Linked DNA regions of Homo sapiens. The protein of the gene in region 1 purifies or fractionates together with the protein of each later gene. This does not show direct contact. Each region holds a gene or a part of one and is shown in the gene's direction. Other genes may lie near its edges.

What was found.
Region 2: the proteins of MBTPS2 (region 1) and SARAF purify together in Homo sapiens (affinity purification with mass spectrometry; 2 studies listed by BioGRID and IntAct, with this or other methods). This does not show direct contact.

What each region holds. Positions count from the first base shown.
Region 1 is NC_000023.11:21,842,617-21,849,616, forward strand, and holds part of MBTPS2 (membrane-bound transcription factor site-2 protease), read left to right. Parts: intron 1-553; coding exon 554-702; intron 703-2,554; coding exon 2,555-2,768; intron 2,769-7,000. UniProt on the Homo sapiens protein: Zinc metalloprotease that mediates intramembrane proteolysis of proteins such as ATF6, ATF6B, SREBF1/SREBP1 and SREBF2/SREBP2.
Region 2 is NC_000008.11:30,062,503-30,066,068, reverse strand, and holds the end of SARAF (store-operated calcium entry-associated regulatory factor isoform 1 precursor), read left to right. Parts: coding exon 1-81; intron 82-2,155; coding exon 2,156-2,181; 3' UTR 2,182-3,066; downstream 3,067-3,566. UniProt on the Homo sapiens protein: Negative regulator of store-operated Ca(2+) entry (SOCE) involved in protecting cells from Ca(2+) overfilling.

The sequences.
Region 1 (7,000 bases):
CAATAGTGTATGTTGATTACATGTTGAAATATCTTGGATATTTTGGGGCATAAGTATACGAAAATTAATATTTAAAATTTGGCTGTTAGAAAATTTAAAGTTATATATGTGGCTTACATTTGTGGCTCACATTATATTTCTATTGGACAACACTGTTCTAAGCAGGGGTCAGCGAACTTTTTGTAAAGTGCTTGGTAGTAAGTATTTTAGGCTTTTTGGGCCACAGAGGGTCTCTGTCGCATATTTTTGGTTTTTATTGTCTTTTTATAATCCCTTAAAAATGTGAAAACTATTCTTAGCTCACAAGTTGTGTGAAAACAGTCTGTAGTTCGGATTTGGCCTGTGGCCCATAGTTTACCAGACCCTAATCTCAGTAGACCGGTTAGGTCTGTGACCTTTAATATTCTGAAGAATAAACATAAAGCTTTAAGATTATAAACATTTGGGAAGTCAGCATCTTAATTTCCTCTAGAAAATACTTTGTGTTATTTTCTTACACATTATAAATTGTTCTTCAAAATTGAGTGATGTAGAACTTTTCTTTCTCTCTTAGTCATCTGTCTATTTTAAACATTCTTATGAAGACTGGCTGGAAAACAACGGACTGAGCATCTCCCCTTTCCACATAAGATGGCAAACTGCTGTTTTCAATCGTGCCTTTTACAGTTGGGGACGGCGGAAAGCAAGGATGCTTTACCAATGGTATTCTTCATCTTCTTTTGTTTGGTTTAGGTTAATCATTAAGTGATCACGACAGACAGCTTGTTAAATTAACTATTTCCATTACTTTGCAGTTTTCTGAGTTTTAAAATATTGACAATATTAAAACTTTCTGGTTTTATATAACCTTATGGGATTGTATCATTGTGGCTTGCATACATTAAAAATCAAGGCATTTATGGCAATTTATAGTTAGGGGCTTTACAATGATCTCTGGGACACCCAAGATACAGGCAGGTTCTGTAGATGAGAGAATGTGAGGGTCAGGGGTGGCATGGTCTAGATTTCTTTTTGTTAAAAATTTAGCCCCAAATGGATTAGAGCTAAATGTAAACAATCAGATCATCAGAGTTAGCAGAAAATGCAATAGCAGATCAAAGCATACAAAGTGGAAAGAAGGATATAATAAAGATAAGAACAGAAATCAGTGAAATAGAAAATATACAATAGAGAAAATCAGCAAAGCCAAAAGTTGGTTCTTTGAAAATATTAATTGGGCCGGGCGCAGTGGTTCACACCTGTAATCCCAGCACTTTGGGAGGCTGAGGCAGGTGGATTGCTTGAGGCCAGGAGTTCGAGACCAGCCTGGCCAACATGGTGAAACCCTGTCTCTACTAAAAATACAAAAATTAGCCGGGCATGGTGGCGCACGTGGTCCCAGCTACTCGGGAGGCTAAGGCACAAGAATCCTTGAACTTGGGAGGCAGAGGTTGCAGAGAGCCAAGATCACACCACTGCACTGCAGCCTGTGTGACACAGCAAGACCCTATCTCAAATAAATAAATAAATAAATAAATAAATAAATAAATAAATAAATAGAAAATATTAATTGATAAACCCCTACCATGACTGATGAAGAAAAAAGAAACGTAAGTAATTAAAAATGAGAATTGAGGCCAGGCACAGTGGCCCATGCCTGTAATCCCAGCACTTTAGGAGGCCGAGATGGGCGGATTGCTTCAGCCCAGGAGTTCGAAACCAGCCTGGGTAACATGGCGAAACCCCATCTCTACAAAAAATATAAAACTTAGCCAGGCGTGGTGGTATGGGTCTGTGGTCCCAGCTACTTGGGAGGCTGAGTTGGGAGGATCACCTGAGCTCTGGGAGGTGAAGGCTGCAGTGAGCTGTGACCGTGCCACTGCACTCCAACTTGGGTGACACAGTGGGACCCTGTCTCAAAAACAAAAATTGGAATTGAAAAGAGGACATTACTACAGATTCTATAGGCATTAAAAACATAGTAAGACTATTAAGAAAATTCTATGCCTATAAATTTGACAGTTTTAGTGAAATAAACAAGTTCCTTGAAAAGCACAACTTACCAAAGTTAGAAAACATGGCAGATTATCTCCACTATACAATGGTAGCTTTTAATAATTAAAACAATAGAAAAAAGAAATTATTATTAAATTATACCATGTTAATATTTAAGCTCATTTTATCACAAAGTAAAGCTGAAATACGATGCAGACAATAGAAGAGGTAGATGAAAAAGGATGGATGTCTATAACGTCAAAAGGGCTTTCATAACGATATAAGGACAAGATCAAAACAATATTATGTAAATGAGCAAGTGCATGAGAGGAAACAAACTTTTTTATTGGGAATGATATTCAGATTCTTTAGTTATCAGAGAATTATAAATTATAAAACTGCTTAAACTAGTGCTCATGCTGCAGTCAAATATTTGAAGTTCATGTAGGAAAAAGAAGCAGAGTTACTGAAATTTTTTAGCCATTATTTTAAAGCTATGAAATGTGGCTGCTTAGTGAATTTGCTAGTCCATGAATTGAGAGAAATTGTAAATTAACATGATTTTTTTCCCTTTTGACAGGTTCAATTTTGGAATGGTGTTTGGCGTAATTGCCATGTTTAGCTCATTTTTTCTCCTTGGAAAAACGCTGATGCAGACTTTGGCACAAATGATGGCTGACTCTCCCTCTTCTTATTCTTCCTCCTCTTCTTCCTCTTCCTCCTCTTCTTCCTCTTCCTCTTCTTCATCTTCTTCCTCTTCCTCGCTTCACAATGAACAGGTGTTACAAGTTGTGGTAAGTATCGTCTTTTCGCTTTAAATAACTATCGAAATAGAGATGCAAGATACCACTTATGATCTAGTGTAACTCCTATCCATAATATAAATATGAAAATAAATTAAAAGTCTCATAATTTTCAAATTACCTGCTTACACAAAAAAATTAATAAGAATACAGCAAGGAATTGTTGAAATATTTGGTAGTAGTTGTAATATTAATGGTAAAAGAGAACAAATGAACCATCATTAAGACTGTCAGCAATTAAACAGATACGTGACTGTCTTTTTAAGATATTAAATGATTGTTATTTTCAAAGAATAGGCATGCTGATTTAAGATCTCTATAATGTATAAGTAAATTGCATTCTAATTATATGCAAAGTGTTTCCCTTTCCTTTTCATGGCCTTCAGAGCCTAACCAATAATATCCTTTTAATTAAAGATATAAGACCTTTCTGAATGGTCACTGTGATTTCTTAATGTGAAGAATAATGTGCTGAGTTGTACTCCTTTAAAACTCATGTGTAGACCTATACCTTATCATTTTATGTCTCCAAAGTTTGGAAGGGGGCTTTACATTGGCTCACTTTTATTTCACATTTTTACATTTATAGTTCCCATTTCCATGAGTCATGGATGTTGTTTTTAATCATGTTCTTATTAATGGAGTAGACTAAGGATTAGTAACAGATTGGGTTTTTTTTTCTTGTCTCTTTGTGTCCTCTACTAGGCTGGGTCACTGGGAAGATTTAGAAGTCATTTGTAGAGAACAATAATCTCTCCTATGGCCATAGCTCTTTTTTAGAGATTAAAAAGATTTAGCAGGTGAGGCCTCAGAAGAAATTATTTCTTTCTTCAGCAAACATTCCCTGCCTTACAGATGAGAAAATCAAGGCACAGACACGTTAAGTCACTTGCCTGTGGTCACAGCTCATAACTAGTAGATCCATCATCACTGATCTTACAGCCTATAGACATTATGCTCTATTATTATTTTATTATCATTATTATTATTATTTGAGACGGAGTTTTGCTCTTGCTGCCCAGGCTGGAGTGCAATGGCGCGATCTCAGCTCACCACAACCTCCGCCTCGCGGGTTCGAGCGATTCTCCTGCCTCAGCCTCCTGAGTAGCTGGGATTACAGGCATGCACCACCACGCCTGGCTAATTTTGTACTTTTAGTAGAGACGGGGTTTCTCCATGTTGATCAGGCTGGTCTTGAACTTCCGACCTCAGATGATCCACCCGCCTTGGCCTCCCAAAGGGCTGGGATTATAGGCATGAGCCACTGCGCTCGGCCTATGCTCTACTTTTAAGAGAGACAAATAATTCTTCAAGGAACTATAAGTAATTTTACTTACAGTTTTAAACCTCTAGGTATATGGTGGGAGGATAGGTGGGACTGGAGGCAAGAGAACAGGATAGTGCAGGATATAAGGTGGGAGATACAGGTAGGGTCTAGGTTATGAAGTTTATGTTTTACCTGTAGGTAGCAAGTCTGTACAAAATGGACCAAAGTCATTAGAGTGAAGATGTGGAGATCATTTAAGAGCAGTAATTTATTTTAGAAGTGATAAAGATATAAAATTAGTGGCAAGGAGAATGAAGGGGATGGATTCAAGTAAGCTTTTGGAGTGGAATTCTCAGACATTGGTGATTAATTAAATGTGAGGCTGGAGGGAGAAGGAAAAGTTTAGGATGACTCTCAGGTTACACAATTGGTTCTTGTTCAACAAGAAAGAGGGTAAGAGAGAAAGAAGCCAGTTGGAGAAAATATGATCACTGGCTTATCTGCCTGCTAGAATTAGAATGGCAAAACGTTGTTTAGAGAAGAAATTATTTCTTCTCTTTGCCACTCAGTTTATTCATAGTACTCACAAAAATGTCAGCTCTATTAGGAGATCCGTGCTTTGGAACCATTAAGAAGTCAGCTGCCCTCTGGAGCCCACCATGCATATTCATGTATAAGTTTAAGAATGTTATGAATCCTGACTTTGACATGAGCTCTTGTAGCTTAAGTAACATACTTTCTGTTTACTCTATAATTCCTGACAGCCTTGTTCAGTATTAATTCTCCAAACCATGGCACTCTGTGTTGTTGAAAGTATTCTGTATTCAGTATTCTGGTACATCTGATACCCTGTGTGAATCATGGCAGAGACAGATGGGCAATCGTGTACTGTTGCCAGCAAATAAGACCTACCATCTGTTGGTATTATCACACATTCAAATTCTTACTTTATCTCACTCACTAGTACATGCAGAAAATAATAAAGAGAAGGAAGAAATATCCTATTGGACCAAGCTTACTGATTTATTTGAAATAAAGGTAAGGTAAGCAGGATATTTTGTGATATAGAGGGTATGTATGACAGTCTTAAGTATGTAAATTTAGAGAGGGGTCAGAGAAAAGTATAATACTGGAAAGATGTCTGACAACTTAGGAATGGAGCAGGTATATAAAAAGGGACATAGAAGTTCTTGAGAAAAGTTGCTCAATAGGGTCCAAGTAAAGAGAATTTCAGATAATGAACATTATAAACATATCCATTTCCTTTGACTCTTTACCTCCACATCTGGGACTCTAGCTTAAGGAAACACTTTCAAATATAGAAAAAATAGTATTCATTAAGCTCTTTAGCCTAACATTATTTATTATTATGAAGAATTAAAAGCAACCAAAATATCTAATTGAGGAATGGTTAAATTATTGGATTGTCATTCAATTAGATATTATGCACACATTAAAAATGATTATAACTAGTTTCGGCCGGGCTCAGTGGCTCACGCCTGTAGTCCCAGCACTTTGGGAGGCCGAGGTGGGTGGATCACCTGAGGTCAGGAGTTCGAGACCAGCCTGGGCAACATGGTGAAACCCCGTCCCTACTAAAAATACAAAATTAGCCGGGTGTAGTGGCGTGTGCCTGTAGTCCCAGCTATTTGGGAGGCTGAAGCAGGAGAACTGCCTGAACCTGGGAGGCGGAGGTTGTAGTGAGCCAAGATCACACCATTGCACTCCAGCCTGGGCAACAAGAGTGAAATCCCAGCACTTTGGGAGGCCAGGGTGGGTGGATCACGAGGTCAGGAGATCGAGACCATCCTGGCTAACATGGTGAAACCCTGTCTTTACTAAAAATACAAAATAAATAAATAAATAAAAATTAGCCGGGCGTGGTGGCGGACGCATGTAGTCCCAGCTACTGTGGAGGCTGAAGCAGGAGAATGAGATGAACCCGGGAGGCGGAGCTTGCAGTGAGCCGAGATCGCGCGACTGCACTCCAGCCTGGGCGACACAGCGAGACTCGTCTCAAAAAAATATATAAATAAAATAAAATAAAACAACAACAACAACAAAAATGATTATAACTAGTTTCTTAACTAGAGAAAGGACACTTGGAATTAATGGAATTTAGAAAATGATTCAAGCAGCATTGTTTGAATCTTCAGTTACTAAAGGAAGCTTTTTAGATGAGATTTCTGTGTCCATAAAAATAAATTCCAGTTGAATTAAAATTAAAACTTGAAACCATAAAAGGCCTTGAAAGAAAAGACCCATGTTATCATTTTTATGAGCACAGAATGAGGAAGACATAGAGCGAATAGTAGAAACCATGAATATTTTTTATGTAACAGTAACACCTTTATTTTTTATTTTTTAAATACTTTATTAGAGCAGTTTTAGATTCACAGCAAAATTAAGAAGGTACGGAGATTTCCCCCCTTACAATGATGAACCGACGTGAATATGTCATTACCACCCATAGTTTACATTAGGGTTCACTCTTGGTGTTGTAGGAAACCATGAATACTAATAGATTTGACTACCTAAATTTTATATATCAAAAACTAAAAACAAAGTAAAATTAAAAGGCAAACAAACTGTGGAATACATTTATGTCATGTATTACAAAGGACCAATGCTGATATTTGAAGTGATCTTACGGATCAGTAAGAAAAAGTTGAATACTTTAGGAGAAAACAAGTCAGGTTATCAGTAGGCAACTCGCAGAAGGACCAAAAAATGGTCAAAAGTACGGGGAAAGTTCAGCTTTACAAATGGTCAAAGAAATGTAAATCACATTGCAGATTTGAATAAAACGAGCTTGCCCAAGGTTATGAAAGGGTCTGCTTTTAGAGTATAATTTGATGACATGTATCAAAATCTTTTAAATTTTGTGTAATAATAGCATTTACTACCCTCTCTGTGAGGCATAACATTAAACATTGGACAAAGATTAGCTCATTTA
Region 2 (3,566 bases), on another chromosome or scaffold:
GGGCTTACTCACCCCTTCATGGAGGCTCGGGCAGCTATTCGGTATGTTCAAACTCAGACACGAAAACCAGAACTGCATCAGGTAAGAGCAAAAAATACAAGTTCCTTTTACCTAGGAGTAAAGTACAGAAATAGTTTGGGAACTTTAGAAGATGATTATCTGTTTAGCAACCATGGTTTTATTTGGTGTACCTACCAAAAATATTAATAGCACAGTTAACTGAGATCCCACTTTTAAACATTCTTTAAAAATCAAACAGGGATTTGATTTAGGCTTAGCTCTACCATAGACCAAGGTTTTAACTTGAACCTTACTGGGTGCTAGCTTCCCCATATATTTAATTCTGTGATCTCTAGAGATCCTTTAAGTTCTAAACTAGACTTTTCTAAGTAGAAGCTTAAACTTAAAATTCAATAACATTCAAAAAAGATATTGAGGTATACTTTAATTTTCAAAAATATGATTGTAATGTTTATTGGAATGCTCAGAGGATATTTTGTAAAAAGCAAAGATACAAAAAAAACAAAGGAATAACTGGATTAAGCATCAAGCCTAATTGGGAGCTGCTGGGTAAGGAGGCCATGAGAGATTGCTCTGGAGTAGCTTTGTCTTTCAGGAAAAGGAAGTTATAGAACAATGATTAATTCTTGAAATTGATAGAAAAATATATTTAAATATGTTTTAAAATGTGAGTAGAATTCTCATAATGCTGGTTTGGATATATATTGATACATTCAATTAAAAAAACTGGTACTACCTCCTAAAATTGAACCTATGCATACTTCCAAAGGACAGAGCAGTTTTGCTCTCAGATATATCGCCACAGAAATGCATACACTTGTGTGCTGGCAGATAAGCACAAGACTGTTCATAGCATCCCTATTCATAATTGCCCAAAACTGGAAACAGCCCACGTATCCATCAGCAGTAAAATGGATGAATAAATTGAGTTATGTTTGCTGTATTGCAGTGGGTTACTGTGCAACTAAGAATAAGTAGTTGTGTGCAATAACATGGATAGATCTACCAAATATAAAGAAGCCAGACACAAAATAATATATACACTATGATGATAGCAGTTACATTTTATAAAATACACATGCAAAAACAGGCAAAACTAATTTATGGTGTTAGAGTATGAGATAGTAGGTACTTCTGGGAAGAAAAAAAGGAGTTGGGAGAATATATAAAAATATGACTAGGTAAGGCCAGGCACGGTGGCTCACACCTGTAATACCAGCACTTTGGGAAGCTGAGATGGGTGGATCACCTGAGGTCAGGAGTTCGAGACTAGCCTGCCCAACATGGTGAAACCCCATGTCTGCTAAAAATACAAAAATTAGCTGGGTGTAGTGGCACATGCCTGTAATCCCAGCTATTTGGGAGGGTGAGGCAGGAGAATCGCTTGAACGCGGGAGGCAGAAGTTGCAGTGAGCCGAGATTGCACCATTGCACTCCAGCCTGGGCAACAAGAGCAAAACTCTGTCTCAAAAAAAAAAAAAAAAAATATATATATATATATATATATATATATGGCTAGGTAAGACATCATGACAGAAAAATATTCATTCTCAGTGGAAAGAAGACTTGCATAAAATCATGACTATGAACTAGAAATGTATGGGAATTATATGAAAGAAAATCATAAAAACCAAATAATGTAAACCTGAAAATAATTGAGAGACTTTCTAGATAGGAAGATTTGTCATCCTGTAGCCTGTGTGTGTGCGCACAGTGTCTTAAGTAACGTTTAAGCATCTAAAGTCCGTAACCCTCCCCACATTACGTCTCTTACCACTGGAGTTGTGAGAGGTAGCAGGGCATGGCTTATGCGCCACTGGCCTCTGTCTTTTTGGCTTAGACTTTGAGTATTGCCTGTACCATGGTGGCCCCACTATAGAATGCATTCTCTTTTTTGGGGTCCTAACTGTCATTCCCAGCAACCATGTGTGAGTGTAGTAGGCTTGATGATTGGGAAGGTTGCTGTGGGAGGCGATGCACTGTCCTGCTTAGCCCAGTTCCACCTAGTGGCACACTCTTTCCTTTCCTCCTATCTCATTCATTTGCTGACAATAAACATGTATGACTTGTAATTTTATAAGCAATTCTAATGCATTTTTAAAAACTAATGTAAATTTTACCCCTCTCATTCTAGGATATGGTGGTACCAGGAGACGATAAAGTAGAAAGTTGGAGTCAAACACTGGATGCAGAAATTTTGGATTTTTCATCACTTTCTCTTTAGAAAAAAAGTACTACCTGTTAACAATTGGGAAAAGGGGATATTCAAAAGTTCTGTGGTGTTATGTCCAGTGTAGCTTTTTGTATTCTATTATTTGAGGCTAAAAGTTGATGTGTGACAAAATACTTATGTGTTGTATGTCAGTGTAACATGCAGATGTATATTGCAGTTTTTGAAAGTGATCATTACTGTGGAATGCTAAAAATACATTAATTTCTAAAACCTGTGATGCCCTAAGAAGCATTAAGAATGAAGGTGTTGTACTAATAGAAACTAAGTACAGAAAATTTCAGTTTTAGGTGGTTGTAGCTGATGAGTTATTACCTCATAGAGACTATAATATTCTATTTGGTATTATATTATTTGATGTTTGCTGTTCTTCAAACATTTAAATCAAGCTTTGGACTAATTATGCTAATTTGTGAGTTCTGATCACTTTTGAGCTCTGAAGCTTTGAATCATTCAGTGGTGGAGATGGCCTTCTGGTAACTGAATATTACCTTCTGTAGGAAAAGGTAGAAAATAAGCATCTAGAAGGTTGTTGTGAATGACTCTGTGCTGGCAAAAATGCTTGAAACCTCTATATTTCTTTCGTTCATAAGAGGTAAAGGTCAAATTTTTCAACAAAAGTCTTTTAATAACAAAAGCATGCAGTTCTCTGTGAAATCTCAAATATTGTTGTAATAGTCTGTTTCAATCTTAAAAAGAATCAATAAAAACAAACAAGGGGTTTAGTCTCATTCTTTCTATTAGCCTAGGCGCAAATAAATGTTACTTTTTGTTTTTTTAAACCCTTTTTCCCAAAGGGGAAAGTTCATGCAGAAGTTCTGTCTCCCTAAACAGTAATTTTATGTGGTAGTCGTACCTTAGTCTTTTGGTAAATGTTTTCAAAAAGTAATTTACAAATGGTGTGGAAGCCTCTGCCAAAAAATAGCGTTTGAAAAAAATAATTAAATCTCCAAGCCTCCCAACCCATCAGAGATTGCATGGTTACACTTAGTTAAGCTTCATAACCTCAAAGCCCCAGTTTTATATCTTATGTGTTTAATGATTTTTGCCATTTAAAACTGCAGTTACTTTTCACCAACCAATAAGAACCAATTTAAAACAAACCCTTATTAAGACTATTGCATAATAAAACTATCCTCTTTTCATCAGTAAAACAGTAGAAATTTTAACTGATAGAAGAAACACAGCTTTACTTTATGTATATCCCACTAAATCCTTACCCCATTTCTCCTTAGTAGAAGGATATGGAATAAAAGAGAATGTAGTTTGTTGCTTTTTTTTTTTTTTTGAGACAGAGTCTCTCGTTCTGTCACCA